Regions from separate parts of the Homo sapiens genome. Here region 2 is linked to region 1. The links come from fine-mapping of genetic effects on plasma protein levels. A gene starts in region 1. The other region holds a variant in brackets. All regions are shown on one strand. Distances are between the middles of the regions.

Region 1 (2,902 bases):
TGATCTCAGGTGATCCACCTGCCTCGGCCTCCCAAAGTGCTGGAATTACAGGTGTGAGCCACCGCGCCCGGCCCCATTTCTGTGTTTTTGCTTCAGGTGGTCCCTCTGCCTGTGCCCTTGCTAACCGCCCATTTCCTCTGGTAGAATTACAAGCTTCAATTTCAGCTCCGACTCACCCAAGAAACTCCCCTTTCCTCAACCACCACATCACCTCTCTACCAAAATATTTCTTTTCTTCAAAGCCTCTGATAAACATTTATTTATTTATTTTTTATCTTACCAAAGTCTTTCCCGATAACTCTTCCCAGCTTGGCGTCTTAAGACCAGGTACTTGCCTTCCTGGAGGCATCTAGGTCACCTTCAGAGCCAGGTGGCCATTGGGTTAACTAGCTGTTGAACTGAATCAAACAGGCTCTGAGCCTTGAAGTCAGAAAGAGCCAGAGTGGAGGGGTCTGGGGGGAAGAGGGGCGCTGAGGTATAGGGAGATGAAACCTGCGGTGGAGGCAGCTTAATGGTCCACCTGTCACCCAAGGAATCTCTCTGACAGGGGTCTTTGTTAGGGTCACACCCCAGGAGATGGTTGATTATGGCTGAGTCCAGCCTGGAATGATGGGGGTTGGGGGCAGCTTGGGTAGATGACTCAGTAAATCAAACAGAACAATGAAAGGAGGTCATGCTTGTCCATCTGCATTATTGAAGACAGCCATAAATGGCCTTACCCCAGAGCGGGTCTGTCACACCTGGAGAGCTGATCTGACCTCTCCAAGACCCCTGCAACTGAGTGTTCTGGGATCTGTCCTGCAACAAGTGCCTCGAGATTTGTAGGTGGGGGCCCAGGGTGCTAAGGGATTATTTTAGCGGGCGGAGAAGGGAGGGGGTCTGCAGACGAAGGGGGCAGGTTTTGCGGGGCACTTAGGGTTCTCATAGGTTGTAGTCACGAGCTCCCAGGTTTGGAAAACTGCAATAGTCACTAAGACCATTCGGGGCTGTTTGGGTCTAGCTTGGTCTAGACGGGTCTGAAACTCCGCAGGACCCACCCAACAAGAAGTCATTGTTCCAAGCCACGTGTCAGTGGTGGGTGATACCCCAGGATGGAAGGAGTTGGTATGAGCCGACTGAAATCTACTTGAAGGTCAAAACGGAGCCTTATGTCTTTTGTGTTCCCCAGCGGTTAGCCCAGTGCCGGCCACAGGGGAAGCGCGCAAACGAAGTCCTCGCGAACTGAACTGAGAGCAGACAAAAGCACGCGCTCTTCTCCACCGCCACGCCGGTCCTACCCAAACCCGCGAGTTATCCGTATTCTCCTTCAGGAGTCATAGTCAGGCCAGAAGAGTGCGGAGGGACGGGGCCCGGGAAGAGCAGGGAACCCCCAGAGCCCGCAGCCAACGCGGAGGTGGGCGAGCGGGCGTGCGCGCACTCACTTGCCGGCGCGAGGGAGTGTCGGGGGGGAAGGGAGTGGTCTCCAAAAGGGGGAGGGGAGAAGGCAGGGGGCGGGGAGAAGCCGGCCCTTTAGGACCCGGCTGCGGCGGCGAGGGAGGAGGAAGAAGCGGAGGAGGCGGCTCCCGCGCTCGCAGGGCCGTGCCACCTGCCCGCCCGCCCGCTCGCTCGCTCGCCCGCCGCGCCGCGCTGCCGACCGCCAGCATGCTGCCGAGAGTGGGCTGCCCCGCGCTGCCGCTGCCGCCGCCGCCGCTGCTGCCGCTGCTGCTGCTGCTACTGGGCGCGAGTGGCGGCGGCGGCGGGGCGCGCGCGGAGGTGCTGTTCCGCTGCCCGCCCTGCACACCCGAGCGCCTGGCCGCCTGCGGGCCCCCGCCGGTTGCGCCGCCCGCCGCGGTGGCCGCAGTGGCCGGAGGCGCCCGCATGCCATGCGCGGAGCTCGTCCGGGAGCCGGGCTGCGGCTGCTGCTCGGTGTGCGCCCGGCTGGAGGGCGAGGCGTGCGGCGTCTACACCCCGCGCTGCGGCCAGGGGCTGCGCTGCTATCCCCACCCGGGCTCCGAGCTGCCCCTGCAGGCGCTGGTCATGGGCGAGGGCACTTGTGAGAAGCGCCGGGACGCCGAGTATGGCGCCAGCCCGGAGCAGGTTGCAGGTAACGCGGTCTGGAACAAGTAGTTGGGAGAAACTTGGAGGGCAGCGGAGAAGCCCGACGGGCGGCTGGACCTTACGGACGGTTTTAGGGGCGGCAGAGCCGAGACCTTGGACCAAATCAAGGGGGACTGTTGCTAGCGGGACGCGGAAGTCAGGCCCGGGGAGGGGAACTGGAGTTAGAGCAAGTGGAAGAGCCCTGGCGACTCATTTGGTGGGGATGAATGGGGAGAGGAAAGGCATCCCTGCTGCCATAGTTTTACCCGCGTGGAACGGACCCAGACTTCTATTCTGGAGGAGGGATTTGCTGAGAAGGGGGCCGGTGGTCAGATCCATGGGAGTAGGAACTCGAATCTTATTTGGGGCACTGCTTGAGGACCCAAGGGTCCTGGTGGGATCGCTGCTGGGAGGCGGAGGCTGCGGGGTGCCAGTGACACCAGGAACCTTGGAAGAGGAGAGGGAGCTAGGAGGAGGCACCGGCGTCCCAAGGGGCCCTTCCTTCTACTGGGGTTGTGAGTTGGAAAGAAAGGACTTGGTACTTTGTAGGATGAGTCGCTTAGGAGAAAAATGAAAACCACCACTACTATTTCTCCATAGGGAACGAGCAGGGCTCTTGCTACCACGTTGAATGGAAAAATAAAAGGGAGGCATTTGGTAGGCGAGGGGTCTCCTAGCAGCTGAATCAATGTAACTTAAGCCCGATCGCCGGCTGCATTCCCTGGACGGGGGCAGCCAGGCTGTGCGGTTTCGCATCTGGGCCCCAGATCGAAAGGCAGGAGAGATGCGTTGCCACCCCCCACCCCCGCCCCTATCTTAAATTGAG
Region 2 (2,902 bases), 18 kb before region 1:
CGGAAACCCCTGATAAACCCCTCAGATTTCGTGAGACTTATTCACTATCACGAGAATAGCAGGGGAAAGATGAGGCCTATGATTCAATTACCTCCCCCTGAGTTCCTCCCACAACACGTGGGAATTCTGGGAGATACAATTGAAGTTGAGATTTGAATGGGGACACAGCTAAACCGTATCAGTATCTGCTTTTGGTAAGCTGCATGACCTTGGGCAAGTAGCTTTAACTTCTCAGAGCATCACTTTCCTCACCTGAAAAGTGGAGATGATAAGAGCTGATTTGTAGGGGTTTTTTGAAGATTAAATGAGATCACTTTTGGATATCACTTTGCTAAGGGGCTGGCACATAGTGGACTACCCAGCCATGCCACTGTTCCGTTCCTCCTTCTTCTTTCTCCTCCTTCCTATTCCTCCTCCACTTCCTCTCTTGTTGTTGCTATTACTATTATTATTATTATTATTATTACTAGCTAGCCAGGCTGCCTGTATTTCTCCAGAAAACCATTACCCATGGTTTAAAAAATCCACCCTTGGCCAGGTGCGGTGGCTCACGCCTGTAATCCCAGCACTTTGGGAGGTCGAGGTGGGCGGATCAGGAAGTCAGGAGATCAAGACCATCCTGGCTAACACAGTGAAATCCCGTCTCTACTAAAAATACAAAAAAAAATTAGCCGGGCGTGGTGCTGCACGCCTGTAGTCCCAACTACTCGGGAGGCTGAGGCAGGAGAATGGCGTGAACCTGGGAGGCGGAGCTTGCAGTGAGCCGAGATCGCCCCACTGCACTCCAGCCTGGGTGACAGAGTGAGACTCTGTCTCAAAAAAACAAAAAAGAGAGAAAAGAAAAAATATCCATCCTTGCTTCTACTCTCTTAGAGGCATATAGAGTTGCCCATATGAGAAGCAGCTCAATTACGATTGTTGAATGCATGGCCTCATCACTTTTGGTTTGGAGCTCACAGTTGAAACCATGTTTGTCGCCTCTGTCCTCCATGGATTAATATGTGCAGCCTGTCTCTCCTAATCAGATGTCACTGTGGCCTCTCATGGTATCCCGAGTAGTCACACTCTCCAGAGAATGGCCACCCCTCCAGCCCTTGGGGTACTCTCCTATGGGCCACTTCAAAGGGAGTTTTGCCCACTCCTCATAGCCTGTATTTTAAGTCAAATCATTTGAAATAAGCCCTCCAAACTGGGTGGAAAACCTCCCTAGGCATTTTTATGTGAAGTGGAAACAGAAAATCTTATTTTTATAGAAAGACTCCTCTGGGATCTCACTATCTAGTAGAGAAGACTGGGGCAGCCCTGAGGTTTGTGTTACAAGAAAGGCTTAGGAGGGAAAGGCGTCTAGGCCAGCTTCCTGGGAAGGTCACATAAATTCCTGCTTAGCATTCAGCGTAGGCTGAGGGCACACCTTCAGGAGACAGGAGCAAACAGACTCCAGCTCCTCTTCCATATTCTTCCAAAGCAGTTTTGGTGAGTACCAGGACCCACTGCTGTTGAAATGCACACCCACTCACCTCACAGTGTGGCCCAGAAGGAACCAGAACCCAATAGGA[G/A]AGGGGCAGAGTTATAAACAACTCCACTGGCTACATCACACTGTGCTTATCGCTGCAAATATTGACTCTGGAGGATCAAACAAGTGGCCAAAAAAAACAATAATATTTTCCCCAGAGAGAAGGTCTTGTTCCAGACAGCCAGGATCAAGTCGGATGGGCAGGCAGTGACAGATGGCACAATGCAAGGTGAAGGTCTCCATGCAAGGGTGATGCTCTCACGTGGTAGGTCCCCTTGGAACTGCTATGCCCAGGGAAGGAGAGACCAGACTCAGGGTGCCATCAGGTGGTCTTAAAGAACACAGGGCATCCCATATCGTGGATCAGAGTTCTCAAAGTCAAGAGATTGCTCCAAGAGGCAAATGTCCACAGCAAAGATCCGACTCCAGGTTTGGCAAACATTGACCTGAATCCCTTCTTTGGGTCAGACATCCTCCCAGAAACCTCCAAGAACGATTCCACACAATCCTTACAAAAGCCTCATGAACTAGGTGTTCTTACTCCATTTTGCAGATGCAAAAACTGAGGCTCCTAACAGTTTGATGACTTGCAAAACAGGTCACATTGTAGGTTATCTGGCAGAGCTGGGATAAGGACTCCCCAGTAAGTGCCTCTAAAGTGTGCTGTGCTTGTTCTGGTTGTTTCGAGCTCTGAGTTCTTCTGGGTTACAACTCAAATGCCCCTTACACAGTGAAAGTCCAGAGAGCAGGATTCTGGACAAAGAGCAGGAACTGAGGTCATTGATTGGCTAAGCCTCAGGGTTGTTTACTATTTTGTAAAGATGTGGATAGAAATAATTATTGATTCTGCATTCTGGCTCTTGGGCAGAAGGCACAGTTTTGAAAGTATCGGCAAGATGCCCAATGCTGCACCCTAGCCATGCAGTGTGTGTTCCTGTGTGTGTGGGTGGGTGTGTAGGTGTGTGTGTGTGTGTCTAGTGCAATTGTGGTAGAGGTTTCATTGTGACCCTCTAAAACCTCCCTTCTGCCCAACCCCCAGACAATGATACCTTACAGCAAGAGCAAGCTTGTCCAACCTGCGGCCCAGGATGACTTTGAATGCAGTCCAACATAAATTCGTAAATTTTCTTAAAACGTTATGATATTTGTTTGCAATTTTTTTTTTTTTAGTTCACCAGCTATCATTAGTGTTAGTGTATTTTATGTGTGGCTAAAGACAATTCTTCTTCCAATGTGGCCCAGGGAAGCCAAAAGATTGGACACCCCTGCCTTAGAGTCCCTTGGCCACTGATTATTATTATATTATAGCAGAGTCACCTTGGACTCTGCTCTATAGAAAGAAAGGGCTGGGTCACAGAAGGAGGCCTTTAGTGGATCAGGCCTTCAGGG

Evidence for each region. PIP is the posterior inclusion probability: the model's chance that the variant is causal. Protein levels are from antibody-based Olink assays in UK Biobank. Linkage for the fine-mapping came from a reference panel and not from the study's own genotypes, which makes the PIPs less certain.
Region 2: its variant is fine-mapped to the plasma level of the IGFBP2 protein (UK Biobank, PIP above 0.99).

The regions. Positions count from the first base shown.
Region 1 is chr2:216,631,883-216,634,784 of GRCh38, forward strand. IGFBP2 (insulin like growth factor binding protein 2) reads left to right here and starts at 1,538. Exons shown (of 4, transcript NM_000597.3): 1 at 1,538-2,083. The coding sequence starts at 1,642.
Region 2 is chr2:216,614,145-216,617,046 of GRCh38, forward strand. No RefSeq gene overlaps it. Among named protein-coding and RNA genes, the nearest start is that of LINC01280, 8.7 kb to the left of the region's middle. RefSeq lists a silencer at 1,062-1,356. The variant G/A (reference allele first, on the strand shown) is at 1,557.